Homo sapiens: one gene and its partners. The protein of the gene in region 7 purifies or fractionates together with the protein of the main gene of each other region. This does not show direct contact. Each region holds a gene or a part of one and is shown on either strand. Other genes may lie near its edges.

What was found.
Region 1: the proteins of ACP3 (region 7) and UGGT1 purify together in Homo sapiens (affinity purification with mass spectrometry, with the first as the bait; one large-scale study listed by BioGRID). This does not show direct contact.
Region 2: the proteins of ACP3 (region 7) and ASB9 purify together in Homo sapiens (co-immunoprecipitation; one large-scale study listed by IntAct). This does not show direct contact.
Region 3: the proteins of ACP3 (region 7) and XPOT purify together in Homo sapiens (affinity purification with mass spectrometry, with the first as the bait; one large-scale study listed by BioGRID). This does not show direct contact.
Region 4: the proteins of ACP3 (region 7) and QPCTL purify together in Homo sapiens (affinity purification with mass spectrometry, with the first as the bait; one large-scale study listed by BioGRID). This does not show direct contact.
Region 5: the proteins of ACP3 (region 7) and GCN1 purify together in Homo sapiens (affinity purification with mass spectrometry, with the first as the bait; one large-scale study listed by BioGRID). This does not show direct contact.
Region 6: the proteins of ACP3 (region 7) and SEC63 purify together in Homo sapiens (affinity purification with mass spectrometry, with the first as the bait; one large-scale study listed by BioGRID). This does not show direct contact.

Annotation. Positions count from the first base shown.
Region 1 is NC_000002.12:128,191,865-128,196,532, reverse strand, and holds the end of UGGT1 (UDP-glucose:glycoprotein glucosyltransferase 1 precursor), read right to left. Parts: 3' UTR 856-4,668; downstream 1-855. UniProt on the Homo sapiens protein: Recognizes glycoproteins with minor folding defects. Reglucosylates single N-glycans near the misfolded part of the protein, thus providing quality control for protein folding in the endoplasmic reticulum.
Region 2 is NC_000023.11:15,256,240-15,260,429, forward strand, and holds part of ASB9 (ankyrin repeat and SOCS box protein 9), read right to left. Parts: intron 2,707-4,190; coding exon 2,627-2,706; intron 1-2,626. UniProt on the Homo sapiens protein: Substrate-recognition component of a cullin-5-RING E3 ubiquitin-protein ligase complex (ECS complex, also named CRL5 complex), which mediates the ubiquitination and subsequent proteasomal degradation of target proteins.
Region 3 is NC_000012.12:64,417,434-64,421,623, forward strand, and holds part of XPOT (exportin-T), read left to right. Parts: intron 1-612; coding exon 613-682; intron 683-1,442; coding exon 1,443-1,661; intron 1,662-2,636; coding exon 2,637-2,821; intron 2,822-2,919; coding exon 2,920-3,088; intron 3,089-3,801; coding exon 3,802-4,038; intron 4,039-4,190. UniProt on the Homo sapiens protein: Mediates the nuclear export of aminoacylated tRNAs. In the nucleus binds to tRNA and to the GTPase Ran in its active GTP-bound form. Docking of this trimeric complex to the nuclear pore complex (NPC) is mediated through binding to nucleoporins.
Region 4 is NC_000019.10:45,699,026-45,703,215, reverse strand, and holds part of QPCTL (glutaminyl-peptide cyclotransferase-like protein), read right to left. Parts: intron 1,419-4,190; coding exon 1,302-1,418; intron 313-1,301; coding exon 167-312; 3' UTR 1-166. UniProt on the Homo sapiens protein: Responsible for the biosynthesis of pyroglutamyl peptides.
Region 5 is NC_000012.12:120,135,399-120,139,588, reverse strand, and holds part of GCN1 (stalled ribosome sensor GCN1), read left to right. Parts: intron 1-732; coding exon 733-894; intron 895-1,173; coding exon 1,174-1,266; intron 1,267-1,544; coding exon 1,545-1,688; intron 1,689-1,774; coding exon 1,775-2,044; intron 2,045-2,269; coding exon 2,270-2,383; intron 2,384-2,856; coding exon 2,857-3,087; intron 3,088-4,190. UniProt on the Homo sapiens protein: Ribosome collision sensor that plays a key role in the RNF14-RNF25 translation quality control pathway, a pathway that takes place when a ribosome has stalled during translation, and which promotes ubiquitination and degradation of translation factors on stalled ribosomes.
Region 6 is NC_000006.12:107,905,519-107,909,708, forward strand, and holds part of SEC63 (translocation protein SEC63 homolog), read right to left. Parts: intron 3,518-4,190; coding exon 3,409-3,517; intron 1,260-3,408; coding exon 1,165-1,259; intron 1,063-1,164; coding exon 930-1,062; intron 1-929. UniProt on the Homo sapiens protein: Mediates cotranslational and post-translational transport of certain precursor polypeptides across endoplasmic reticulum (ER). Proposed to play an auxiliary role in recognition of precursors with short and apolar signal peptides.
Region 7 is NC_000003.12:132,330,674-132,334,863, forward strand, and holds part of ACP3 (prostatic acid phosphatase isoform PAP precursor), read left to right. Parts: intron 1-973; coding exon 974-1,060; intron 1,061-1,518; coding exon 1,519-1,671; intron 1,672-4,190. UniProt on the Homo sapiens protein: A non-specific tyrosine phosphatase that dephosphorylates a diverse number of substrates under acidic conditions (pH 4-6) including alkyl, aryl, and acyl orthophosphate monoesters and phosphorylated proteins.

The DNA of each region.
Region 1 (4,668 bases), on a different chromosome or scaffold from region 7:
CTGTAATCAGATGTTTAAGTGTTAAAATAAACTCCAACTTCCTTTTCTTTATCTGGATGATGGATATGCTAGTGCTTTCACTTTGTGAAAAACTATCAAGGTGTGTGTTTATGTACTTTTCAGTATGTGCTACAGACCTCAACACAAAGTTTATTACAAGAAAAAACCCATTTAGTGCCAGCACCCAGTTTAAACCCCTGAAGGGCCTTCTTGTGCCCCCAGGATCAAACCCATTCCCCCTCTCCTGGCCACGTGCAGGCTTCCATGCAGCTCCCTCAAAAACACTAGCTCAAGCTCCTCCCCTCTGCCCACCCCTCGCCCCTACTTAGTCCTCAGGCTTCAACCTAAGCACCACCTCCTTGTAGCAGCTTAGTCCTGGTCCTGCACCTTAGGGCCCTCTCTTGCGCCTTCACAGGCACCAGGTGCCCCTCCCCGCCCTCCCCATCATCACACAGAGACTACATCCTCAATGCATATCCACCCCGGAGTAGGAGCTCAGAGAACTGGCAAAATGCAAAGTCCATGCCACCCTCCTAAGGAACTCTGCCGGCCCAGGGGTCTCATGACACCTTCTTGCCTTGAGGTTCCCCCTCCCACCCCACCTGTTATGCCTGCCTGCCAAGTTCTGCCTGGGGCAGCTCCCAGAGGTTGAGGACCTGGAGGAGACCTGGGTGCTTTGGATCCTCAGAATCCAAAGAACTGGATGCAACCCGAAGCCAGCCCCAGCAGCAGACAAGACTCAGGTAAAGCCCTCGTTCCTCTGTCTGGGTTTGCAGCTTCTGCTAGATGAAGGGGTTGGACTTTGTGCTCTATCAATCTGCCCTTCCTAAACACAAAGGCCAAATGACTGCGCAGTTTTAAAGAAGAGAGGAAACGTTTACTGTGTTGAGCAGACCTTATTTTCATTACAGTACCAGGAAGTTCATTCTCAATTCCCTTCGAACGCAGAGATTCTGCAGACATTTAAAAGCCCAATGCTGTTCCCAAGCAAGAGGCAGCACCTGACAACAATGCTGCATTTAATGGAGCAGGATTACAGTAACATTGGATATTCATAAAGAAGATTTTTAAAGTACACAGTTTCCTTAAAAATTATAACATTTTCCCACCTTTATTTTATTATTACCACGAATAACTGGTTGGTTGGAAAACATGGTACTTGATAATCTTTTGTTGTCAACCTTAAGTTAATGTATTTTGCTTTCTGCTGTTGTTGTTAAGAGACGTTATGCCCATTTCTCTGGAAATCTCAATGGTGACAAGTAAGGCAAGGCATACAATACATTCCTGTCCCACTGCAACCTTCCACAGCTAGCCTCTGCACTGCTGGGTATCTGGGAAAGACTCAGGAGAGGACCTTTTGCTTGCAAATCCTCAAACTCCTGACCTCGGGTGATCCGCCTGCCTTGGCCTCCCAAGGTGCTAGGATTACAGGCGTGAGCCACCACGCCCGGCGCTTGCAAATACCGACCACAGAGTTTAACCTTCATGGGCTCCTTCTAGGAAGCAGGCAGCCACTTGCCACAGACTTTGCAGTTTGTTTTTATAAATTGTCACTGATCAATGACAGCCTGAGGGAATGGGACCCTCTACTCAATTCATTGACTTCCTGCTTCTACTGCCTCCCAGAAGTGTCATTTCATTTCTGTATATAGAGAAATGAAAGACCAAAGAATGAAATGAGAAATCTGTATCCTCTAGGCATTTCAGGTATATACCCTGAAATATCAATAACCACTGAAGTTCATGATGTCTCATTTGCTTGAATTCAATCAGTTAATTACCAAAATACTGATTAAGATCTTTCCCTCACTACCTCAAGGCAGAGAAAACATGAATTTAAAGAAGTTATCTTACCAAACTACACACATGACAAGCTTTATTTGATTAACTCCAATCATCCCACAAAAATGTGCCCATAAAATCAAGTACTTAAAAAACTAATTATTAAAATTACACAACAATGGGACAGGCGCGGTGGTTCACGCCTATAATCCCAGCACTTTGGGGGGCCGATGCGGGTGGATCACTTGAGGTCAGGAGTTCGAGACCACCCTGGCCAACATGGCAAAACCCCGTCTCTACTAAAAATACAAAAATTAGCTAGGCATAGTGGCAGGCACCTGTAATCCCAGCTACTCAGGAGGTTGAGTCAGGAGAATCTCTTGAACCCGGGAGGCAGAGGCTGCAGTGAGCTGAGATTGTGCCACTGCACTCCACTCCAGCCTGAGCAACAGAGCGAGATTCTGTCTCAAAAAAAAAAAAAGCAAAAATTAGCCGGGTGTGGTGGCGCACACCTGTAATCCCAGCTACTCGGAAGGCTGAGGCAGGAGAATCACCTGAACCCAGGAGGCAGAGGTTGCAGTGAGCCAAGGTCACACCATTGTACTCCACCCTGGGCAACAAGAGCAAATCTCTGTCTTGAGGGGGGAAAAAAACCACGCAACAATGGAATACATATATTTAAATAACTGCACATAATACACCCTCCATTTTTGTTACCAAGAGAAAGCTTCCATCAGGTAGCTTTACCAATACATTTCCATTCCCATGAAATGCAATACCACAGTACTAATATTCTATTCAGAAAAAGACTACAATTCCCTTGTAACTCTTTTTCTTTTTCCCTTGTAACTCTGAGTTCTTTCTTTTAATCGTTCAGGCCACATAGGTAAGGCCATTTTAGAAAAGGACTGCTTTCAAGTATCTAAATATACTTCCGGAGGGCGGGGGAGGAAGGGAGTCATTTTACACTTGTCACTCTCAGGGTGATGTCTGACTGTCCAAGTCACGGGGTCAGTAGAGCAGGTTTCCTGGCTAAAGGAAACTCTGGGAGTTCTTTCCTCCCTACCACCTGGGCCAGTCTCTTCCCCCTGTCCCTAGCTCTTGGCCCTCTACTCAGGGACTTGGTCCCCACAATCAGATGAAAACTCATTCAGGCAGAGCCTTGACAAGGTTCAGAACACGAGGGCTTGACCGGACATAGTGGCTCACGCCTGTAATCCCAGCACTTTGGGAGGCCGAGGTGGGCAGATCACCACCTGAGGTCAGGAGTTTGAGATCAGCCTGGCCAACCAACATGGTAAAACCCCATCTCTACTAAAAATACAAAAATTAACCAGGCATGGTGGCAGGCGCCTGTAATCCCAGCTACTCAGGAGGCTGAGGCAGGAGAATTGTTTGAACTTGGGAGGCAGAGGTTGAAGTGAGCCAAGATCGCACCACTGCACTCCAGCCTGGGTGACAGAATGAGACTCTCTTAAAAAAAAACCCACGAGGGCTTAAGGACAGCAGAGCAAATTAAGCTCCATTTATGGAAACTGTTTTAATTTTTTTTTTTTTTTTTTTTTTTTTTTTGAGACGGAGTCTCGCTCTATTGCCAGGCTGGAGTGCAGTGGCATGATCTCGGCTCACTGCAACCTCCACCTCCCGGGTTCAAGTGATTCTCCTGCCTCAGCCTCCCGAGTAGCTGGGACTACAGGTGTGTGCCACCATGCCCAGCTAATTTTTGTATTTTTAGTAGAGACGGGGTTTCACCGTGTTGGCCAGGATGGTCTCTATCTCTTGACCTCATAATCCGCCCGCCTCGGCTTCCCAAAGTGCTGGGATTACAGGTGTAAGCCACTGTGCCTGACCGGAAACTGTTTCTTAACATACATCATGCACGTAATCTTCGCTCTCCCAAGAGGCATTCACCCAAGCAGACAGGCAAGCATCTATGTGTTCAATTCGAAATGCAACAATGACAGATGTACAACTTTACCACTCTTAAAGAAACTAACATGCCATCCATTATTCTCCATGTGGGAAACATTCAGTAAACTTCTAAAACCAAACACAGGACTCTGGCATATCCCCACACCCCCAGCAGCAGGCTGTGACAGGCTTTGATCTCAATCAAATGCCACTGTACACAGAACATAAAAACAGGCTCAGGATGCTGCATGTCACTCTGACATATCACATTATTTCATATTACTCTGTCACTTACTCACAAACAAAAGTCTCCACTATGGCATGATTGAGAGAGAAAATAATTCACTTTATATAAATAACAGCTAAGAACAACATACTGTGAACAGTTTCCAGAGTTTGAACATTCAGCACAATCAATTCTTACTTCTTGGGAAAAAAATATCTTACCTATCTTTTCTGTTACAGTATGCCTTCTTGGAGAAAATATTTTAGTGGTAACATCATTTTCTGGGGCATTTGGTTAATTTTGAAAGATGATTATGCCACATGAACCAAAAAAAAAAAAAAAAACTGGCAGGAGGAGGAGGGTCCTAGGCCATTCTGGAAGCAAGCTGGGTTTTGCATTATTCAGAGTCAACTATTAAGCTGACTTATATTAGAATGGCGACAGATAAGAGGCAATGAGTGACACCAGGACATGCACAGCACACAGAGAATATGGTCTACTCTTGTCTTCCCTGCACAGATTAAACATAAGAGGCTTGGTAGAAAGACATGGGGAAAGGTGCTATGGGGGCCAGCATTTGGAAAGCATATATCCCAGTGACTTGAGTATTTGCTATGCAACCTCCTGGACGAGAAACTGGGAAAAGGCACACTTCCGCCCACAGTTGTGGACAGCAGCAGTCACCCGTCTGAATGCTTTCATTCAATGTGAAGATGCAGCTTGAACAAAAGTTTCTTTTTGTTTGT
Region 2 (4,190 bases), on a different chromosome or scaffold from region 7:
ACTGCTTTTCTGCTAAACAGCAGAGTTAGGTACTTCCAACAGAGACTGCATGGTTCGCAAGGCCTAAGATTCTTTTTTTTTTTTTTTTTTTTTTTTGAGACGATGTCTTGCTCTGTCGCCGAGGCTGGAGTGCAGTGGCGCGATCTCGGGTCACTGCAAGCTCCACCTCCTGGGTTCACGCCACTCTCCTGCCTCAGCCTCCCAGCCTAAAATATTTACTATCTGGTCCTTTACTGAAAAAAATTTGCCAACTCTTGGCCGGGTGCAGTGGCTCACGCCTGTAATCCCAGCACTTTGGGAGGCCGAGGCAGGCGGATCACGAGGTCAGGAGATCGAGACCATCCTGGCTAACACGGTGAAACCCCATCTCTACTAAAAATACAAAAAATTAGCCGGGCGAGGTGGGGGACACCTGTAGTCCCAGCTACTCGGGAGGCTGAGGCAGGAGAATGGCGTGAACCCCAGGGGGCGGAGCCTGCAGTGAGCCGAGATGGCGCCACTGCACTCCAGCCTGGGCGACAGCAAGACTCCGTCTCAAAAAAAAAAAAAAAAAAAGAAAGAAAAAAATGTGCCAACTTTTGTCGTGATCAAAGAAAAGAATATGTCATTTCTTACTTTACTATTCATACCTAAGACTTAAATGTCCAATTGGCAGGAGAAAATATCTTATTTTCTCACAGTCATCACACTTATAGAAAGTAGCTTTGTCAATGCCACAAGAGGGGTATGATTGTCACATGAAGCAAAAATCATGCAAGTGTATCAGACACAAGTTGGGGGAAGGCAGGCCGAGGTACAGAACTTGGGCAAAAGGCAACCATAAAAACAACCAATAGGAAAATGTGCATACTCCTCCAGGCACAACTGCCATTGTAAAACCGGCATTTAGACCAGGCACGGTGGCTCATGCCTATAATCCCAGCACTTTGGGAGGCTAAGGCTGATGGATTATCTGAGGTCAGCAGTTTGAGACCAGCCTGACCAACATGGTGAAACCTCGTCTCTACTAAAAATATAAAATTAGCGGGGCGTGGTGGCACATGCCTGTAGTCCCAGCTACTCGGGAGGCTGAGGCAGAATTGCTTCAACCCAGGAGGCGGAGGTTGCAGTGAGCCGAGATCGCGCCACTGCACTCCAGATGGCAACAAGAGTGAAACTCCATCTCAAAAAAATAATAATAATAATAATAATAATGATAAAAATAAAACCAGCATTTAGGTGTTTATACATAAATCCACGTAAATGAAATACAACAACACAGCTATTCGTAACACAAAAAGTTTTCACCACATATTCACATTGCAGAGAGGTTCCTTCTGTAAAGTTAGAAACTCATTTGTAGTTCATCATCAAGCTACAGTTCTACCTTAAATTAACTGTGATTTGTCTAAATTATTAACAAGTCTGAGTCATATAAAATCATAAGGTAATTAACCCATTACTTCACAGTGTTCAGTCCACAGTCAGTTCTTAGTTTTTAAAAAAAGATTGAATGGCTTAACTTTAATATATCTATTTTCAGTCGTCAACTACGCTTAGTTGACAAAATGTACTTCTCTTGAGCCTTGACTTTGGATGTGGTCATGTGACTTGACCAGTGGGATGTTAGCAGATGTGACATGAACAGATTGGAAGTATTCTTGCATGGTGGGGCTTGTCCTGCTGTGCTCCAGCGTTTTGCCAAGAAAAAATAATTCCTCAGGTAGCCAGTGGTCCAAGCAGGATGAAAGAGATGTGCAGCAGGGCTACACCCAACCCACAGCTGGGAGCCAAGCCCAGCCAAGCCCAGCCTAGATGAACTGACACAAACACACATCAGCAAGAAATAATGGTTACTGTATCATGTCACTGAGTTTTGGGATGGTTTGTTATTGAGTTATGGGGTGGACTGACCTAGGTAGGTATTAGAATACTCATTTTATGAAAGCAGAAACCGGGGCTCTAAAAAGACATCTTACACAAATAATGTGATAGAACTTGGAGATATGGTTCTGGCTGATGTTTCATAAACACATAAATACTGAATGTAAATGAGTATCTGTCCAATTTAAGAAGTGATATATAAAAGCTGCAGTGATCATTTTTCATGCTATCAAAATAGGGTAAATTTCTAATTTTATCTGAGAAGTAGCCTAACTTCTTTTAGCTAGAATTAGTGTTATAATCTATTTATAATAGACTGCTGCTACCAAAAATGGCTTAAGATAGTGGCTTAGGATAGTATGAAATTTTTCTTTAGAAATTATTTTCTTATAGGAGGACTTCTTACTCTAGATAGGTCTATGAAATTGGATTTTTTAAAGCACATTTATTCTCACTCAGCTCTATCTGAAATTTAGCATTTCCTTCAGTTCAGAATGTAGACAACAAACCACAGTAGTAATAGTATTATGTAGGGTTATCTCCAATAGAAATTACAGATATTTTCTATTGTATTACAATTGCTGTAGACATCTAAAATATCTCAAAATCTATACTCATCCTATTTAGACGTTATGGTAGTTACTAGAATCACCACTAGGTCTTCTATTTAATGAATTAATTTAAAAGTCCCTATGTTATTATGTCACACATTTGTTTTAATATTTTGATAGGTTTCTTCTGTATTGTATTTTCAAAAAGCTACCTGGCTGATGAGGTTCCTCAGAGACAGCTGATGTCCGTGGATTGCAGCTTCATGCATAGGAGACCAATCAGACACAGCATCTGTATGGAAAGAGGGGAATGGGTTATATCCTGCTAATGCACTTAGACCCAGAGGCTTATCCTTGCCCATCAATAAGAGCCTAACAGGCCCTGGATGGAGGGAGACATTGGATTCACTCAACCAAAATTCCCATCAGGAATTCAGCATTTCTCTTCTTTATTAATATTTTTTGTGCACAGTTTGTTTGAAATGTCTGGATAGCTTGGGAAAGAACTACAGCCAGTCCTCAAACTAAGGACAAAAGAGGTGGATTGGGATGACAGATTACTCTATTTCTATTTACACACTGGTTTCAAAGGCAAATGGCCCATTTAGTTAAGCGAGAGCTTCACTAATTACCAACATTAGTGTGTTAAGCTGTAGCTGTCAGTCTAGTTTCCTGCATGAAATACAGACTTTGGCATCTCACCAAACAGTGTTCTGTATTAATAGTAGTAATCATGTAATTACATACACCATTAGGTTTGGAATCAAATCTAAACAGAACCATATCTATTTATAGATTATCTCCTGTCCTAATATTAAGCACAAATCAGTGTTCAGTCTCACCTTGAAACAGGGACATTATTTACCCTCAAAGGCAGCATGCCAAGGTGGTTAAAGAAAGCTCTTAATTCAGACCCGCTTCACCTTTTCTGACCTGTGGGTCCCGGGAAAGGCCCAGTGCCGCAGTTTCCTTCTCTGTAAAGTTACAAGTTGAGCAGCCCTAATATATAACATACAGGTTGAGCATCCTTAACCCAAAACTCCCAAATCCAAAATGCTCCAAAATCCAAAGCTTCTTGAGTGCTAACATGATGCCACAAGTGGAAAATTCCACATCTGACATGTGATGGGTTGCAGTCAAAACGTTGTTTCATGCACAAACTTATTTAAAATATTATATAAAATTATCTCAGGTTATGTGTGTAAGGTGTATATAAAACATAAATGCATTTCGTGTTTAGACTTGAGTACCATCCACAAGATAAGTCATTATGTATATGCAAATATTCCAACATCTGAAAAAACTGGAAACACTTCTGGTCCCAAGGATTTCAGAGACGGGATGCTCAACCTGTACTTACCATGGCTCAACACATACTAGCTACTATTATTATCCTGCCCTAACACTAAACAGAGAGTCTTAATTATACCTCATCATCATTGCTATTTAAAATAGCAAATTTACACCAGGCGTGGTGGCTCACACCTGCAATCCCAGCACTTTGAGAGGCCGAGGTGGGCAGATCACCTGAGGTCAGGAGTTCGAGACCAGCCTTGCAACATGGTGAAACACCATCTCTAGTAAAAATGTAAAAATTAGCTGGGTGTGGTGGCTCACGCCTATAATCCCAGCTAGTCGGGAGGCTGAGGCGGGAGAATCGGTTGAACCCGGGAGGCGGAGGTTGCAGTGAGCCGAGATCATGCCACTGCACTCCAGCCTGGGTGACACAGTGAGACTCTGTCTCAAAAAAATAAAATAAAATAGCAAATTTATTCT
Region 3 (4,190 bases), on a different chromosome or scaffold from region 7:
GCTACTGGGGAAGCTGAGGCCAGGAGGTTGAGGCTCCAGTGAGCCATGATGGTGCCACTGCACTTCAGCCTGGGCAATACAGCAAGACCTTGTCTCAAAAAAAAAAAAAAAAATGAAAATCCAGATATTTCACAGAAAAATCTAGATTTCCAGCTTTTCTGGAAAAGTCAGAATATCTGGTAACACCAGGCCTGTTTTTCTACATGACAATTCTCTCTTAGAGTTAAGTAGCTGCATGGGCACTTGTGTTCAGAATCTCTGACTTACTAATTAAGCAAAATAACAAATCACTACTGAGAGGATTCCTAGTTCACCTATTGGTTTATTCTGTAGATCACAGACCACAAAACATTTTCATTCGAAAAATTGTGTAGCCATCATTTGTTTCAACATGAACAGAATCACAAATTAAAGATTGATATTGATGCCCTACCTGCCACTCTTGTCCTTATCTTTAAAGCAATGATGAGTGGCATTATCAGTTTATGTTAGGGAACTTCAGATAATTGAGAGCTATACAAATTTTCCCTTTCAAATATATGAGGCTGTTATTTTTTACAACCATAGACACCAAATATAGCCATTATTCTTTTTCTTCTCTATTTTGAACAGATACTCAGAACTAACCACTGTTCAACAACAGCTAATTAGGGAGACGCTCATATCATGGCTGCAAGCTCAGGTAAAATCATAATTTCATTCAGTACCTCAAATTATTAGATATTTAAACTTATTTTTTGCAAGAGTTTGGAACTTTACCTCAAAGATTTTCATCAGTGTTCCTCCATTTGATTTCATAGCTTTTTTAAAAGGTGCTGGTTTTAAAGATCATGGAAGTGGTAGTTTAGCAATAATTTAATATTATATCAATGACTGAAATGGTCATAGTTTCCATGACACATTGTGGAAACTTTGGTTTTAAAATGTAGTTGTTTTTAACTACTTGACAAATGCTGCTTTCTGTTTGGCTCTTAAAGGTGAGCCCTCCTGGACAGCCTCTCCACCAGAGCCCTTTATAAAGGGCCAGTTGAGTTCTTTTCAGTTAATTTTAGCTAATCTTAACACATAAAGCAGTTGTGTAGCTAGAGTTTTCATTTTCCTTAAAGAGCAAGTAGAGGAAAATTTTTTTTTCTTCTTAGAAGAAATTATAGGAACTATTAAAACTCTGCACATGAAACTTTTCTGTCAAAGTGTAAGAATGAGGAATAATCATTACAGCCTTTAATGGTTCATTTAATTGTTCTTCATCTGGTCAATCACTTAAATACTTTTGATAATTTTGATAATCATAATTATCAAAATAATTTTGAAGAGTATTTGTTGCATAGTTTATCTGGGCCATGTTGACATTTGATGAAACTTTGCCTTTTAATAAGACAACTGGTGTTTCTGGGTCTTTTCAATTTACATTTAATTTTATGGACTGTTTCTCTGTTTGTCAGATGCTGAATCCCCAACCAGAGAAGACCTTTATACGAAATAAAGCCGCCCAAGTCTTCGCCTTGCTTTTTGTTACAGAGTATCTCACTAAGTGGCCCAAGTTTTTTTTTGACATTCTCTCAGTAGTGGACCTAAATCCAAGGGGAGTAGATCTCTACCTGCGAATCCTCATGGCTATTGATTCAGAGTTGGTGGATCGTGATGTGGTGCATACATCAGAGGCAAGTAACTAACCATGAATTTTTTATATTTAATGTAAGTTTTGTAGGTGATAATGGGCACATAATAAAAAGAGCAGGGAAGTTTTCTTTCTTGAGGTAAACTTTCTTAAGTTATATAATTATAAATTTACCTGATGTTTTGGATTTTATTTTATGAAGGAACTCAAACTTGGTTATTTTTTTTCCAGAGGTATATTGAAATTAAAGTATTACATTACATTTTTTATTTTTTTACTTTTTTGAGACGGAGTCTTGCTCTGTTCCCCAGGCTGGAGTGCAGTGGCACAGTCTTGGCTCACTGCAACCTCCGCCTCCTGGGTTCAAGCGATTCTCCCACCTCAGCCTCCCTAGTAGCTGGGATTATAGGCACATGCCACCACGCCTGGCTAATTTTTGTATTTTTTGTAGAGATTGGGTTTCGCCAGGCTGTGCTCAAACTCCTGACTTCAGGTGATCCGCCCGCCTTGCCCTCCCAAAGTGTGGGGATTACAGGCATGAGCCACTGCGCCCAGCCTAAATTTTTTTTAACTAGGCAAATACTGTAGTGACATACACGAGTTGATTTTCTTTTATGAATCTGTTGAGAAAGGTAGTCTCAATTTAATACTGCTATATAGTCCCTGAGCAAGGAAGAAGCATTGCTTAGGAGTTGTCCGTGTTGCTACTTCTGTATTCTTCATCACATAGTGTAAGTACTATGTTACTATATTGAGAAATAACTTAAAATATGCTTAAGATTTCTAAGCAGTGCTTTTTATAGTTTGTATTTACTAAGAAATTAACTCTGACACTGAGGAGTAGAACAGAAAGAGGAAATACAAAGAATCACAGGATATGATCTTAGAGCTGGTAAATAGGAAATACTGGTAGGGAATGTGTTAACAAGTCTGAAAGTTTACTCTCTGCAAGTATATTCAGATATCAAACATGATTTTGTAAGGTAATCTACTTTGCATTTGGCGTTTTGTATTTTAGGAGGCTCGTAGGAATACTCTCATAAAAGATACCATGAGGGAACAGTGCATTCCAAATCTGGTGGAATCATGGTACCAAATATTACAAAATTATCAGTTTACTAATTCTGAAGTGACGTGTCAGTGCCTTGAAGTAGTTGGGGCTTATGTCTCTTGGATAGACTTATCCCTTATAGCCAATGATAGGTAAGTATGCCTATTATTTTTATAGTATAAACTTGTAAAATACAGTATCTAAAACTCATGACTTTGAAAATGTTACAATTTTATTGTCCCATTACCAGGTTTATAAATATGCTGCTAGGTCATATGTCAATAGAAGTTCTACGGGAAGAAGCATGTGACTGTTTATTTGAAGTTGTAAATAAAGGAATGGACCCTGTTGATAAAATGAAACTAGTGGAATCTTTGTGTCAAGTATTACAGTCTGCTGGGTTTTTCAGCATTGACCAGGTTGGTAAATTTATATAAAACATTGTATGTAAAGTTGTTAGAACAAACTGGGATAGGTACTAAGTTAAATATAATAATAGCTTTTTTTCTTCTAAATGTTATAAACTCCCCTTGAGATTATAATATAAACCACTGCATCTAGCCAAAATGTTCTCAGTAGCATTCTCCTTGGAGAATGGGTTATACCAGTTCTTAAACCTGAAAGCCTGTAATTGCACATTTCTCACAAACTCTTAGGAGATGCTGACACAACTTGTTCATAGTGGAATTGAGATTTTTTGTTTTGTTTTGTTTTTTGAGATGGAGTCTCACTCTGTTGCCCAGGCTGGAGTGCAGTGGCACAGTCTCGGCTCACTGCAACCTCCGTCTCCCGGGTTCAAGTGATTCTCCTGTCTCAGCCTTCCGAGTAGCTGAGATTACAGGCGCATGCCACTACACCCGGCAAATTTTTTACCTTTTTGGTAGAGACGGGGTTTCACCATGTTGGCCAGGCTTGTCTCGAACTCTTGACCTCAGGTAATCCACCCACTTCGGCCTTCCAGAGTGCTGGGATTACAGGCATAAGCCACCGTGCCCAGCCTGGAATTGTTAAATATATGACGTCATTTTAAAATTGAATCCTGTAATTAGCACTTGATTCATATTAAAGTTCAGTTTTTCCTCTTAGCTTGGGCAGGCAGTTTTAAACAGAGATGTGTCTTGATTGCTTATAGGAAGAAGATGTTGACTTCCTGGCCAGATTTTCTAAGTTGGTAAATGGAATGGGACAGTCATTGATAGTTAGTTGGAGTAAATTAATTAAGAATGGGGATATTAAGAATGCTCAAGAGGCACTACAAGCTATTGAAACAAAAGTGGCACTGATGTTGCAGCTACTAATTCATGAGGATGATGATATTTCTTCTAATATTATTGGATTTTGTTACGATTATCTTCATATTTTGAAACAGGTAAGTTTTTGTTTTATTCTTTTTGCTCAATACATAATACAAAGGAGCCATGGAGAAGTGGAAAATATGGAAAAATTAAAAATGAGAAAATACCCATAATTCTACTACCTAAAGATATTTACTGTTAAATACTAATGTATTTCCATCTTAAA
Region 4 (4,190 bases), on a different chromosome or scaffold from region 7:
TTGAGACAATCAAAAGAAAGAAGGTCTTCCAATTGTAGCACAATTAGGAGACAAAGGTATGAAAAGGACAAACCAGCACACCCTAGGCAGATCCTGCCTGAGCTTCACTGGCCCCCGCTGGGACCTTCTCTCTCACAGTCCTCTCCACAGTCATTGGCCAAGCACGCTAGAGCCCCAGGTATTCAGCCAGGAACACAGCGAGAATGCGGCACAAGTTGTGTACCGTGGGTGGGTGGAGATTGACCTCGGTGTCCGCAGGGGTGTGCCAGACAGCAGGGAAGGGCGTGGAGATGAGATGGAGCACGGGTACCCCTGAAGTGACAGAGGAGACTTTGTCAGGTCCACTGCAGCCCACCACAACCCAGGAGCCCAAGCCCAACCTCTAGGTAACCTTGCCTTGCCACCACACACTGGTGAAAGATACTATGTTCTGGCACTTTTTTTTTTTTTTTGAGACAGAGTCTCACTCTGTCGCCCAGGCTGGAGTGCAGTGGCGTGATCTCGGCTCACTGCAGCCTCTGCCTCCCAGGTTCCAGCGATTCTACCGTCTTAGCCTCCCGGGTAGCTGGGATTATAGGCAGGCACCACGACACCTGTCTAATTTTTGTATTTTTAGTAGAGATGGGGTTTCATCATGTTGGCCAGGCTGGTCTCAAACTACTGACCTCAGGTGATCTGCCCGCCTCAGGCTCCCAACGTGCTAGGATTACAGGTGTGAGCCACCATGCCCAGCCTGGCACTTTTTTTTTTTTTGAGATATCATCACCCTCTGTTGTCCAGGCTAGAGTGCAGTGGCTCAATCAAGGCTTACTGCAGCCTTGACTTCCCAGGCCCAAGTGCTCCTCCCACTTCAGCCTCTCGAGTAGCTGGGACTATAGGTGTGAACCACCATGCCCGGCTAATTTTTTTGTATTTTTAGTAAAGACAAGATTTATGCCATGTTGCCCAGGCTGGTTTCAAACTCCTGGGCTCAAGGATCCCCCCCCGCCACCCCGCTCAGCCTCCCAAAGTGCTGGGATTACAGCTGTGAACCACCGTGCCCAGCTGCAAACATTTCTGGAATGCTTGCTATGTGCTGGGTGCTGGTCCAAGTAAGGTCTTTACCGGTGTTAGCATGTTCAATCCCCTCAACAATACTCTAAGATAGGGAGTATTATCCCCATTTTACAGATGAATAAATCAAAGCACAAAGAGGTTAAGGCCACTTAGCACCATTCCCCAGCCCTGGGAAGGGGACTTGGCCAGTTCCAATTTGTGGCTTCCTTGGACACCCACCCTCCATCCCTCCCTGCAGCTGGTACCTCTGCGGAGGAAGGGGATGTGGTCGTCTTCCACAGAGCCAAAGGGCTCCCCGGGTTGGAAGTACATCACTTCCTGGGGATGAGACTGCAGCAGGTTCAAACGGTGCAGACGCTTCTCTGGAAGTGGGGGCGATTAGAGAGGAAGGGTTAGTCCTTAGTAGTCGAAGGTCCCCAGTCCACAAATCAGAGGAAGGCAGAGCACCCAGAGACAAAGCCCTGGTCAGCCCAACAAGAGTGAATGCCAGTTACTCCTTCCTGTGGGCTCACTATGTTCCTGGTCTCATTCAATCCCTCAGAGTCTAAGACATAGACATTCTTTTTTTTGAGACAAGATCTTGTGGCCTGGTGTGGTGGCTCATGCCTGTAATCCCAGCACTTAGGGAGACCAAGGCAGGTGGATCACCTGAGGTCAGGAGTTCGAAACCAGCTTGGCCAACATGGTGAAACCCTGTCTCTACTAAAAATACAAAAATTAGCTGGGTGTGGTGGTGGGCGCCTGTAATCCCAGCTACTTGGGAGGCTGAGGCAGGAGAATTGCTTGAACCTGGGAGGTGGAGGTTGCAGTGAGCTGAGATTGCACCACTGCACTCCAGCCTGGGTGACAGAGTAAGATTCTGTCTCCAAAAAAAAAAAAAAAGATCTTGCTCTCTCACCCACACTGGAGTGCAGTGGGACAATCCCAGCTCAGTGCAGCCTTAATCTCGCTGGCCTAAGTGATCCTTCAGTCTCAGCCTCCCAAATAGCTAGGACTTCAGGCGCATGCCCCCATGCCTGGGTAATTGTGTGTGTGTGTGTGTGTGCGCGTGTGTGTAGAAATGGGATCTTCCTGTGTTGCCCGGGCTGGCCTCAAACTTCTGGGTTCATGTGATCTTCCTGCCTTGGTCACTCAAATTTCTGGGACTACAGGCATGAGCCACTATGTCTGGGCCCTCCGGCCTTTTTTTTTTTTTTTTTTTTGAGACAGAGTCTTGCTCTGTCGCCAGGCTGGAGTGCAGTAGCACAATCTCGGCTCACTGCAACCTCCGCCTCCCGGGTTCAAGCAATTCTCCTGCCTCAGCCTCCTGAGTAGCTGGGAGTACAGGCGCCCACCACCACACCCAGCTAATTTGTGTATTATTAGTAGAGATGGGGTTTCACCATATTGGCCAAGCTGGTCTCGAACTGCTGACCTTGTGATTCGCCCACCTCGGCCTCCCAAAGTGCTGGGATTACAGGCATGAGCCACCAGGCCCGGCCCCCACTGGCCGTTTTACAGATAGGAAACTGAGGCTCAAAGAAATGAAGCCACTTGTCCAAGTTCATCCAGCTGGTAAGATTGGAAACCACGGCTGTCTCACCTTAGAGCCCCTGTCTGGTAATCACTATTACTAATCTCTAGTTCCTTAGAAAGGCTAGGGAGGTAGAGGAAAGGCTGGGTGAGCCTTTATTTTATTTTCTTATTTATTTATTTGTTTATTTATTTATTTATTTAGTGACAGAGTCTCGCTCTGTCACCCAGGCTGGAGTGCAGTGGCACAATTTCAGCTCACTGCAACCTGTGCTCCCAGGTACAAGCGATTCTTCTGCCTGAGCCTCCGGAGTAGCTAGGACTACAGGCACACGCTACCACACCCAGCTAATTTTTGTATTTTTAGTAGAGATAGGGTTTTACCATATTCGCCAGGCTGGTCTCAAACTCCTGACCTTGTGATCCACCTACCTTAGTCTCCCAAAGTATTGGGATTACAGGCGTGAACCATTGCGCCCAGCCAAGCCTTTATTTTTAAAAACAATTTTTAATTTTTTTAATTTTAATTTTTATTATTACTTTTTTTTGAGACAGAGTCTCACTCTGTCCCCAGGCTGGAGTGCAGTGGTGTGATCACAGCTTACTGCAGCCTCGACCTCCCAGACTCAAGTGATCCTACCACTTCAGCCTCCCAAGTCACTGGGACTGCAGGCAGGTGCCACCATGCCTGGCTAATTTTTTTTTTTTTTTTTTTTGAGATGGAGTCTCGCTCTGTTGCCCAGGCTGGAGTGCAGTGGCGTGATCTCGGCTCACTGCAACCTCCGCCTCCCAGGTTCAAGCCATTCTCCTGCTTCAGCCTCCCGAATAGCTAGGATTACAGGCACATGTCACCACGCCCAGCTAACTTTTTGTATTTTTAGTAGAGATGGGGTTTCGCCCTGTTGGCCAGGCTGGTCTCAAACTCCTAACCTCAGGTGATCCACCCGCTTTGGCCTCCCAAAGTGCTGGGATTACAGGTGTGAGCCATCGCGCCTGGCCTAATGTTTGTTTTTATTTTGTAGAGACAGGGTTTCGCCATATTGCCCAAGCTGGTCTGAAACTCCTGAGCTCAAGTGATCCACCTGCCTCTCAAAGTGCTGGGATTACAGGTGTGAGCCACCAAGCCCAGCCTTTATTTTATTTTTATTTTTTATTTTTTTGAGACAGGATCTCATTCTGTTGCCCAGGCTGGAGTGCAGTGGCGCAATCTTGGCTCACTATAGCCTTGACCTCCCAGGCTCTAAGGATACTCCCCAGTAGCTGGGATGACAGGTGCATGCCACTGCACCCAGCTAATTTTTTTTTAAGAGATGGGGTCACCAGGCACGGTGGCTCACGCCTGTAATCCCAGCACTTTGGGAGGCTGAGGTGGACGGATCACGAGGTCAGGAGTTCAAGACCAGCTTGGCCAACATAGTGAAACTCTGTCTCTACTAAAATACAAAAATTAGCTGGGCATGGTGGCATGCGCCTGTAGTCCCAGCTACTCGGGAGGCTGAGGCAGGAGAATGGCTTGAACCTGGGAGGTGGAGGTTGCAGTGAGCCAAGATCATGCCACTGCACTCCAGTCTCAGTGACAGAGCGAGACTCCATCTCAAAAAAAAAAAAAAAAAAAAGATGGG
Region 5 (4,190 bases), on a different chromosome or scaffold from region 7:
TGGTGCGATCATAGCTCATTGTAACCTTGACCTTCTGGGCTCAAGTGATCCTCTCGCTATGGCCTCCTGAGTAGCTGGGGACTATAGGTGTGCACCACCACACGTAGCTAATTTTTGCATTTTTAGTAGAGGTGAGGTCTCACTATGTTGCCCAGGCTGGTCTCAAACTCCTGGCCTCAAGTGATTCTCTTGCCTCCACCTCCCAAAGTGTTGGGATTACAGGCGTGAGCCACTGTGCGCGGCCCCTCTCTACTTTTTAATTTTTTTAAAATTTTTAGTTTAAGACAATCTCACTCTGCTGCCCAGGCAGGAGTACAGGGGCACCATCTCTTTTGGCTACAGCCTCTGCTTCCTGGGTTCAAGCGATTCTTGTGCCTCAGCCTCCTGTGTAGCTGGGATTACAGGTGTGCACCACCACACCCAGCTAATTTTTGTATTTTTAGTAGAGATAGGGTTTTGCCATGTTGACCAGGCTGGTCTCGAACTCCTGGCCTCAAGTCATCCGCCCACCTTGGCCTCCCAAAGTGCTGGGATTACAGGTGTGAGCCACCGTGCCCGGCCCCTTCTCTCCTTTTTTTTATTTCACAGTAAAGAGTTAAGTTAAAAGACAAGTCAGGCAAAGAGAGTTAGGGTGGCCTAGCTGGGTCAGAGTCCCCTGCCTGTGCTTCTTGTCTGCTTCTGCTCCTTCTTTGCCTTTCCTGCATCTGGTACAGTTGTAGCTTGCCATTGCAGGTGCTGTATTTCTCTGAATCCCTCGTGCCCACGGCAAGGAAGGCTTTGTGTGACCCACTGGAGGAGGTCAGAGAGGCGGCAGCCAAGACTTTCGAGCAGCTGCATTCCACCATCGGCCACCAGGCTCTGGAGGACATTCTCCCATTTTTACTAAAGCAGCTGGTGAGTGGATCTACCACACACCTACCTACCAGTTTGGCTTTTGCCGTCTTTGTAGATGGAAAATACAGGGCGATTATTCTGCCAAGGCAGTCGCAATGTGGGCCCTCCAGAGGGAGTGGGTATAGCAAGATCAGACTTGGCTTTGTGCTTCGCCTTCGGCAGTGAGGAAATGTGGGTGCAACAGGAGGGAGGGAAACAAGTGGAGAAGGAAGTTGGCGGTGGCTGGTTGAGACAGCAGAGATGCAGATTCCTCAGGGTTGTCCCCAACACCCTCTGCAGGATGACGAGGAGGTGTCAGAGTTTGCCTTGGATGGTCTGAAGCAAGTCATGGCTATTAAGAGTCGTGTGGTGCTGCCCTACCTTGTGCCCAAGGTAAATCCCAACATGTGGTCAACACCCTCTGGCTCCAGGGCATTGACATTTCCAGGGCCTGCAGTGAAGACCAGTTCTGAACGTAGATGTTGGAGGGCTGGGGGAGGAGGGTGCAGTGCAAGCATTACATCCTTCCCCTGTTGTCTTCCAAGATATGCTGGAGTAGATGCTTGGCTCTGAGCAGTGGGCTTGGGCTCTCTTGCCCACCCGTCTGTTCCCAGAGCCTAGCGCAGCACCTGGCACAGTATTCACTGAGTTAATGTTTGTCATTCCACCAGCTGACAACGCCACCTGTCAACACCCGGGTGCTGGCTTTCCTTTCGTCAGTGGCTGGTGATGCCCTCACCCGTCATCTTGGCGTGATCCTCCCAGCGGTCATGCTGGCCCTGAAGGAAAAGCTTGGGACCCCAGATGAGCAGCTGGTAAGGGGCGAGCCTGCTCCTGCTTTCTCATGTCCCGTCTGCCCGGAGGATCCCTGCTCAGCACACATGTCCCTTGTGGTTTGCAGGAGATGGCCAATTGTCAGGCTGTGATCCTCTCCGTAGAGGATGACACAGGGCACCGGATCATCATCGAGGATCTGCTGGAGGCCACCCGCAGCCCTGAGGTGGGCATGAGGCAAGCTGCTGCCATCATCCTCAACATCTACTGTTCCCGCTCAAAGGCTGACTACACCAGCCACCTGCGGAGCCTGGTCTCGGGCCTGATCCGCCTCTTCAATGACTCCAGCCCTGTGGTTCTGGAGGAGAGCTGGGATGCCCTAAATGCCATCACTAAGGTGAGGGGACTGCTGACCCCACAGCCAACTTTTGCTTTTAGAAAATTCCAGACATTTACAGGAATAGACTTATAAGAATCCCCCACGTACCTGTCACTCAGCTTCGGCGTTTACCCACTCGTGGCAAGTCTTGTTTATACTCCCGCCCACGCTTTCCCCATATATTCTTTGGAAGCAGTCTTGAGAGGGCTGTACATCCTCTCGCTTTTTCCTGGATTCCTGCAGAAGCTGGATGCTGGCAACCAGTTGGCACTCATTGAAGAGCTGCACAAGGAAATCCGGCTCATAGGGAACGAGAGCAAAGGCGAGCATGTGCCAGGATTCTGCCTCCCGAAGAAGGTAAGCCAGGGCCTCGTGCAGGGGGCTGTGGGCGTGCAGTCTGTTGTGCCCTTCTGGCCCTTACCCCTGTCCCAGGTCTGCGGTAGGGGCTGCTGGAGCAGTAGCCGTGGTGGTTGGTGTTCAGCACCTTCGCAGACAGCATGTTTTCTTCCATGGCAGTCAGATGGGGACAGGGTTCATGCTGCCTTTGGTTTAAGCTCTGCAGGTCACCTTGGCCAGAGTGAGTGGGCCACAGGGTAACAGCAGTGCATGTTCTCTCTGTGTGATAGGCCTGTTGGGGCCCTTGTCGTCTTTTCTCTGCCAAGACCGTTCCATAGCCAGCCCTCTCAGGCTGTGATCCTGAGATTCAGCCCAAATCAATATCTCCCATGGAGTTGAGGGGAGGACAGCTGTCAGGACCACTTTGCTTGCATGGGAGACACCAGGGCCCAGGGTGTTTGAGATTTGACTCTCAGTTGTGGTTCTCTTGTCAGGGAGTGACCTCCATCCTTCCAGTGTTGCGGGAAGGAGTCCTGACTGGCAGCCCTGAGCAGAAGGAGGAGGCAGCCAAAGCCTTAGGCTTGGTAATCCGCCTGACCTCGGCTGACGCCCTGAGGCCCTCCGTGGTCAGCATCACTGGCCCTCTGATCCGCATCCTGGGGGACAGGTTCAGCTGGAATGTGAAGGCGGCTCTGCTCGAGACACTCAGCCTCTTGTTGGCTAAGGTGAGTGGCTGATGAGTTTGTTCAGATCTTAGAGAACAGGTCTGTCTGCAGGAGCCTGATACAAGGTGTCATGTAGCAGCAGGGCAACAGATTTATTGTGGAGAGCCGCATAGCAGAGGGAGGTAAGACCTTGGACTTCAGACATGCTACACCATGGGTCAATTCCAAGTCGTCCTTACTAGCTCTGTGACCAGGATGACCTTGGGAAAGCCATATAACCTAAGCCTGTTTCCTCACCTACAATGTGAGACTAATAATACCAGCTGCCTCATGAAGGGCTGCTAGATATGGGGATTAGATGAGGTTATGTCCAGCATGATGCCTGCTACATACTAAGCACTCAGTACATGTGAAATGCTATTATTTTGAAAAACTACTTTTTCAAAGGAAAAAATTCAGGACCACGTAAATACAAGGAAAACATTGTTTAAAGATATTGCAGTTTTTGTTTTTTTTTGTTTTTTGTTTTGTTTTGTTTTGTTTTTGAGACAGAGTCTAACTCTGTCACCCAGAGCTGGAGTGCAGTGGCGCGATCTCGGCTCACTGCAACCTCCGCCTCCTGGGTTCAAGCAATTCTTCTGCCTCAGCCTCCCAAGTAGCTGGGATTACAGGTGTCTGCCACTACACCTGGCTAATTTTTTTGTATTTTTAGTAGAGACAGGGTTTCACCAGGCTGGTCTCGAACTCCTGACCTCGCACAGCTCAGATTTACCAGCTCCCCCTATCCCCTTTGTGTGCCTGCCACAGCCTGCACACCCACCCAACTCCAGTATTTCCAGACCTTCATTGGCACTGAACCTCCAAACAGTCACTCTGGTTTTCCTAATTAACAATAAGTAAGCCGGGCGTGGTGGCTCAAGCCTGTAATCCCAGCACTTTGGGAGGCCGAGGTGGGCAGATTACCTGAGGTCGGGAGTTCGAGACCAGCCTGACCAACATGGAGAAACCCTGTCTCTACTGAAAATACAAAATTAGCCGGGCATTGTGGCGGGTGCCTGTAATCCCAGCTACTCAGGAGGCTGAGGCAGGAGAATTGCTTAAACCCGGGAGGCGGAGGTTGCAGTGAGCTGAGATCGCGCCTTGCACTCCAGCCTGGGCAACAA
Region 6 (4,190 bases), on a different chromosome or scaffold from region 7:
ATGTCGGTGAAAAAGAGATAATTAATGACATCCCTGGAAACACTGTTGCCTCCATCAACTACTTTTCTTTTAAGCAGAATACATGGCTTCAAGTACTTATGAAGCTTTAAATAACTATAAAACAGACATTATTGGTAACCACTGTCGGAGGAAGCTTGTAGATGGGGAGGTGAGAGGTGTTGGTTGTTGTGAAATCCATTTTGCTCCCTCCAAAAACTTACAAAGTCCTTTAAAAAAATTATTAGGAACTTTTGTATGATCTGCAATTAACTAAACATTTCTTATACAGAGCATTCTCTCACCTTGAAACACTAAATTTTAACACTTGCCAAAACGTCTGACTTACTTAGATCTTCAAACCATTTGTGAAGTAATTATGTAGCATATACATTTCTTTTTTAAAAAGTCCTTGAGCAATTATTTGGCCAAAAAAGAACAGCAACAAAACACACCGCACCACCATGCTATGGTTTGGGTCTGTGTCCCCACCCAAATCTCATGTTGAATGGTAATCCCCAATGCTGGAGGTGGGGCCTGGTGGAAGGTGATTGGATCAGGGGGGTGGAGTTCTCCCTTTGGTGCTGTTCTCGAGATACACTTCTCACAAGACCTGGTTGTTTAAAAACGTGTGGCATCTCCCCCATCTCTCTCTTCCTCCTGCTCTGGCCATGTGAAGACACTTGCTCTGCCTTTGCCTGCTCTGGCTTTGCCTTCTGCCATGAATAAAAGTTTCCTGAGGCCTCCCCAGCCATGCTTCCTGTACAGCCATCAGAACAATGAGCCAATTAAACCTCTTTTGTTTATATATTACCCAGCCTCAGGTATTTCTTTAGAGCAATGCGAGAACAAACTAATACACACCATTAAGTCTAATTAATTCTGCTGCTTTCATCCCACTAAACCTCTGTAGATACCGGAATCACAAATACCTTCTTCAAGGGTCTCAGGAATTTTCATTCTAGCAAGATGAGACAGTAAAAGAACTCTGGCCTTCAGGCTATATGGGCAGGTAAGTGGAGGCTCATTCTTCTTTAAATTAATGCTGCCAATTTCTCTGATTAGCTAGAATAAATAAAATAATTATTCAAAAACACGCTTTTTTTAAAAAAAGTATTCACTTTAATACTTAACTGCTCATCGGGGGATTTGGGAAATTAGCCTAACCTGTGGTATTAGAATATTATCCGTTGGTCTGCTTGTGGCATCTTTATTATACTGAGGATCAAATTCAGAAGCTCCAGCCAAAACCATGATAAGACCTAACAAAACAAAAGAAATATGAAGGTAAATAAATATGCTCATTCATTAATTCCCCCTCCTGAGATACTTAATTCACTTGAAAGTGAAGCACTTTTCTAAACATGCACAATGCTAAAAATTATCTGAACTCCACTGACAAGTATTTATTTCTTCCATAAAAAAAGTAACATCTCGCTTTTTAAAATGTACACAGTATCAACCACCACAAGTGAACAGAAGTATAGATCAAATAAAGCACACCAAAGCAACTGGAGGCATTAAAATCACTGAAAGTTCCACAGAAACTTTCTATAGAACATCAGTATTCTGTGTGGTATTAATAATTCACGTGAAAAAAGGGGGCCCTATGATTAAATAAAGCTGAAAATAATGTAAACAAGAGTTAAAGGTTTCTTTACTACATGACTTCTCAAGGCCTTTTGTAAACCTAATATGCATTATAATTTTCCAAAAAAATTTTATTATGGAACCCAAGAGGATTTTGTGGAAATACACATGATTAAAACCCTCAGGCCAGTGGTGGCTCACGCCTGTAATCCCAGCACTTTGGGAGGCTAAGGCAGGCAAATCACAAGATCAGGAATTTGAGACCAGCCAGTTTGAGACCAAGCTGGCCAAAATGGTGAAACCCCATCTCTACTAAAAATACAAAAATTAGCCAGGCATAGTGGTGCACGCCTGTAATCCCAGCTACTCGGGAGGCTGAGGCAGGAGAATTGCTTGCACCCAGGAGGCAGACGTTGTGGTGAGCTGAGATTGTGCCATTGTACTCTAGCCTGGGAGATGAGAGAAACTTTGCCTCAGAGAAAAAAAAATCCATGTAATGTACTCACAAAAGGCAGGATAGTATAGAAGTTAAGTGCACAGACCTTGGTATTTTGTCACTTCCTAGCTAAATGACCTAGGACAATATTCTTCATATCTGTGTATCTCAGCTTCTTCATATGTGCCTGACACACAGCAAGCACAGTACTTGTGTGAGCTATTACTATTACTACCCTCAAATGTTTACTTAATAACAACTGTTCCTAAAACAGCTAAAATAACCTAGAATGTGTAAAGAAATCCACCAGCTAAACAATGCTTCTCTGACAAAGCTGTGTAAGGATACCACCCTCAGAAAAGAAACAGAAATCAAAATGATTGAGGCAAAAAGCACACTTAAAATTATAAACATGAAACATTTTCATAAGGGAGTAAGTTTCTGTATTAACATTTCAATCCAGCTTTAGGAAGAGTAATATTTTCGATAAGGCAAAGTAGTATTAACTCATTCAGAAATGTAAAATCTGTTCACACACAGTCATATATGACCATGAGAAGTCTCTCTCATTACTAAGAAAATTAGTAAAATTGCCAAATCCAAAATGCAGAAAAGTCCATTTTGGTCCCGGAGACACAATTCAAAACTTACATTCTTTTATTTTATTTTTTTTTAAAGAGGGATGGAGGAGCAGCTATGATTTTTGCAGAGCCATCATTCTGAAAGGTAACACTCTATCTCCCAAGGATAAACTGCAAAGTTTGCTTTATATAATCAAAGAAAGTGAAAATAGTATTTTTTTTCTTAAATTTTTAAATAAGAACTGGGAATGAAATACTCTAGCACTAGTTTTCTTTCAACACACCTAAGACTTTTTATTTTTACTACAATTAATACACTATAACATAATGGTTTAAGGCTCAAGAACCAGACTGCCTGGGTTCAATCCTGGATATCACTTACTGTGTATCCTTGAGAGTGTTACTTTTCGGTGCCTCAGTTTCCTCATCTATAAGATGTACTGTAAAACAGCACTCACTTACGAGAACACAGCAAAAATTAAATGAGTCAAGACACATACAGTAACTAGCAGTGTCTGGCATACAACAAATAATAAATGTTAGCTAGAATTACAAAATTTGCACGCATAAGGATTATGGTAAAATTTCTGATGAAATATATGAGTAAATGTGAATAATGAAAATATAAATTAAGAAATGTGACAAAGGGTGCTGGCATTTTTCTCTAGCTTTAATTATATAAATTAACTATTTATAAAACTGTACAATAGAATCTCAACAGTATAGAGTTAAGGAATATATATCAACCCCACATAAGTCACAAAACAATGTGATTAATAGCAAAGTTACTTAAAGTTTACTTACGTTTCATATCCATATTTCGGGTTTTATAAACAAAGTATGTATAAATCTGTGTTGTGCGTATTAGAATCTGGTCTCCACTATAGCGTATTGAGCGATACCACCAAGAGCCCTAAAACACAAAAAAAATTAAACAAGAAAGAAAGTATAAAAACTACGATAGGCTGGGCGAGATGGCTCATTCCTGTAATCCCAGCACTTTGGGAGGCTGAGGTGAGAGGACTGCTTGAGCCCAGGAGTTTGAGACCAGCCTGGGCAACATAGTGAGACCCTGTCTCTACAAAAGAAAAAGAAAAATGCAAACATTAGCTGGGCATGGTGGCACATGCCTCTAGTCCCAGCTGCTCAGGAAGCTGAGGTGGGAAGATTGCTAGAGTCCAGGAGGTCAGGGCTGCAGTAGCCATGATCATACTACTGCACTCCATCCTAGGTGACAGAGGGAGACTCTGTCTCAAAAAAAAAAAAAAAGCAAAACAAAACCCTGATAAATGTTAAGTTTGAGGCAGAATATGTTTATGGTCAAATCTTCTAAATATTCATAAAACAATAAAAATACCTGAGTCTTACAACAAGGACCTCTTTCTTGCATATTTCAAGTGATTTCTTTAGCAAATATTTATACTGTCTGAAGCCTAAACACCAACCTAAGTCACTGCATATATATAATCAAAACATTTACCATTTTGGATAGAAATACCTTAAAGACCAAAAAGGGATAAAACTACCCACTGCTATAAGCACCAAGCTGGTTCTTGACACACAGCATGTCTTCAATAAATACTTGA
Region 7 (4,190 bases):
CAAGCAAATGACAAGTGTGACAAGCAAATGACAAGTGGGACCAAGCAGCAGCCACCGTAACAACCTCCTCTCTGGCTCCCAAAGCTCTAGTAAGGCTCTGGATTAAAGACAAACTTGAATGCTGCATTTCCAAAGCATGGTGCTCTACTACATGCATCTGAATCACTTGGGAGACTTGTTAAAATGCAGATGTCAGGGCCCCACTCAGGAACTAATGAGCTGGAATCTCTGATGGAGATGCTGAGGAATCTGCATTTCAACATGCACCGCTGGATAATTTTGTTTCTGATGCACGGTAATGGTTGTGGACCACTGAGCTAATGCAGTGCATCTCAGTGATTACTGTCCATCAGAAGCTTGTTAAAAAATATTCTTGAGCACCACCCCCAAAGGTTCTGGTTCAGTAGGTCAAGGGTGGGGCCCAAGAATTTGATTTCTATAATGCTTTTAAGTGAAGCCAATACAGACCACACTTAGAGTAACATGTTCTAATTTTTTTATGAACCAGGAATTAATAAACTGGGCAGATAGTAAAGCATTGCCCACAGAGGTTGAAAGAGACTTTCAGATTCATCGAGTCTAATCTCATCAGATGGTTGAGCTTCTTCCACAAAATCCCCACCAAGTGGGTCTCTTTGAATGCTCTACCAACAAGGATCCCACTACATCAGAGATGAACCATTTACTTAAATCAGATCAATCACCCAACTATCAACTAAGCACTTACTATGTGCAAGTCTCTATGTTAAGTGCTAATGAAGATAAATGAGTTTTCTCAGGGAGTCAGGGAACTGTAACTAAAGAGTACAGCTCTTTTGTTTTCACTTAAATATGTGTCATTATTGTGGAACTATTAAACCACACCATTGTTCATTCTACACACATAATGAAAAAAAAAATCAACAAATTTTTATGATAGTGTGATTCATAGAACTTACTTTCATTAATTTTTGCTTTTATTTTTTTCCCATAGCTGGGCATGGAGCAGCATTATGAACTTGGAGAGTATATAAGAAAGAGATATAGAAAATTCTTGAATGAGTCCTATAAACATGAACAGGCAAGTTGGGGAGCCAAGAGTGGGAACTTTGATCTTTGAAATAATTAAAATAATTCTGCATATATAAAAGTGCTTTGCCTGTTTTCCAAGGAACTTATACAAGTCAGAGGTCTTGTTTACAAATATATTCCTCTTTATGCAAATTTTTGTTCCAAAAAGTTTGTGAATATGAGTAATTTCAAGATTTTATGAACACCTGAATAAATACTTTGGCTTGACAAGTAGCCACTGCTTAATTGATCTCATTTGTCAATTCAACTATTGGCCAACCAGGTTGCTTTGTACCATGATCATAATATTGCTCATTCCTTAACAAGTATTATGATTCTGATGTTAGCACAATGTCTGTAATATTTCACTGTGGGTGTCCTTTCCTTTCTCTAATACCTTGGCAGCTCTGTAGAAAAAAACCTCATGCTCCCTTTACGTTCGCTTCTGCTTTGATTTTCCTACTCTAGGTTTATATTCGAAGCACAGACGTTGACCGGACTTTGATGAGTGCTATGACAAACCTGGCAGCCCTGTTTCCCCCAGAAGGTGTCAGCATCTGGAATCCTATCCTACTCTGGCAGCCCATCCCGGTGCACACAGTTCCTCTTTCTGAAGATCAGGTCAGTATACTGGGAAAACCAGGAGATTTCAGATGGACCTAGAATGAGGAAGGCAGGCTACTCAACAGTTGTGGATTTGGGAGTCTGGACACTCCTTGAGCTGTGCAGTTTTAATTCTTTCTTAAATAAAGATACAAAGGACAATTTAGGACATGGAAAACCCTAGCTAAGAGAGAGTAGGAACCAAATTTCTCTTTGGATCTGTATGATCCACTTTGTTTTGCCACTCTTGCAACTCTTGGCAATTTGCCCCCTCATCGTCATACACAGAGAGAGAGAGAGAGGGAGAGGGAGATAGACAAGTCCCCCAGTGTTCTGCCTTAATTCCCAGGCTTTTGGTGCCCCAAACAGGTTTCTCCACTCTCCAGATTATCCAAAGATATTTATACCACCAAACACTCCTCCACTCATGAAAATCCACATTCCTAGGTAGAGAAAAAAAGATTTGAGTGCATAATCATTGCCTAACATTTTATGTGAATCATTGTGTTACCTTTCATAACAACTCTGAATGGACAATATTCTTGCTCTCCTTTTATAGTGAGGGAAATAAGTGCTTGGAGAGGTTAAATAACAAACAAATTGGTCCAAAGCAACACTGCTGGCAAGCATCACTCTGGGATTAAAACTAGGCCTATTTCATTCCAGAGCAATTTTCTTCCCTATAAAATCATGATTCTCAGACTTAGCTGCATATTAGGATCACGTGGTTTTTTAAAAAAAATCCTGATGCCCAGGGCACTCTCCGTAAGAAATCGGAATGTCTGAGGGTGGACCCAGGCATCAGTGTTTGAAAAATAATCTCCCTCGATGATTCCAGTGGGGAGGCAAGTTTGAGAACCAGTACTATAAACTAAGCTGCCTGAATGGGGCTGTTTGAGAGAAACTCTCAAACGTGTTTACACAGGTTGGGACCGACCAAGCTTTCTTTAATCTTTTCAGAGGAATGGGTATTTTTAAAGTAGCAATAGATAAATCTAACTAATCTTCCAGGTGTGAAACTTAAGGCTATATGAAAGAAATAGTTTGGGACAAAGAATCCCTTCCTAATTTCCCTGCAGTCCCATCATAGGCATGACCATCGCATCTCTTTATGGCTGAAGCTTAGCCTGACTGCTGGACCCAGACTTTTGCCCAGTGACCTCTGGGGTAGGTTACTATCCTCTTTGTCCTGCCAGTACCCCTAGAAATTTGACTTAATTGCTGCATCTAGGGACTTAGGGATTTTTCCCAAATGCTGTGTAGAAAGTCACTGGAGTTAAATCTACTCCAACCATTTTTCTGCTGTTTCTTGAAAAGACAGGATGATTCATTTACATCTCTTTTCCTTCACAGAATCATGAGGGAAGTATTGTGATTACCAGTGTTAAGCATTTGTGAATATTTTATTCCAAAAAGAAAAAAAATCACTTTACCAGCCTTTTCTGCAGAGATAAAGACTGGAGGTCAGGTGCGGTGGCTCATGCCTGTAATCCCAGCACTTTGGAAGGCTGAGGCGGGCAGATCACCTGAGGTCAGGAGTTCGAGACCAGCCTGGCTAACATGGTGAAACCCCATTTCTACTAAAAATACAAATATTAGCTGGGCATGGTGGTGCACGCCTGTAATCCCAGCTACTCAGGAGGCTGAGGCAGGAGAATCACTTAAACCTGGGAGGTGGAGGTTGCAGTGAGCCAAGATCGCACCGTTGCACTCCAGCTTGGGCAACAAGAGCGAAATTCCGTCTCAAAAATAAATAAAAAACAAAACAAAACAAAGACTGGATAGCAGCACCAAAATTTAGCAAAATGTAGACCACAACAGCTATTTAACAATTAATCCTGAATGATAGTAATTAAGTTACACAGAAAGAGAATGCAGGTGCTAGTAGAAGAGGAGGAAAGAAACAGGGAGAGTGAGGGAGAGAAAGAGAGAAGCAAGGAACATTATCTACCTATGGCTTCCATCTATCTGATTCACTAAGGTCAAAAAAATTCTCTCATATCAACTAAGAAATCTAATGAAACCAATCAACACTAGCTTATTCCTAGCATTTAGCTGTGCTGAATGCTGTAGAGAAATAGGAGGCGAAGTTTTTCTAATTTATAGTTTGATGAAAGCAAATTAGCATGTGTGAAATGTGTAGAAGACATTATAAGATGGCGGGCAATAATTTCAAGTACAAGCCACATATGCTGGGTGAAGTCAGAGAATGAGACTTACGTGCAGTTACCACAGGGCCGTCGTTCAGGTCTTCATAAAGAGAGTGAGAACTTGAACCAGACCTCAGAGGAGAGGGAGGAAGGAGAGGAAGGCAGCACAAAAACACGACCATGAGTGAATATGTAGAATGCCAGTTCTTCTGTGCCCAGAGTTCATATTTAGAAAGAGAATGAAAATAAAATTGATTATATTGGACACAGATTAGATAATCCAAATTTAATAGCCAGGAGGAATCTTGAGTTGAAAGAAAGGCAGTGTGATGTTAGAAGGAGGGCTGAATTTGAAGTTGGAAAACCTACATCCAACTACCACTTCAG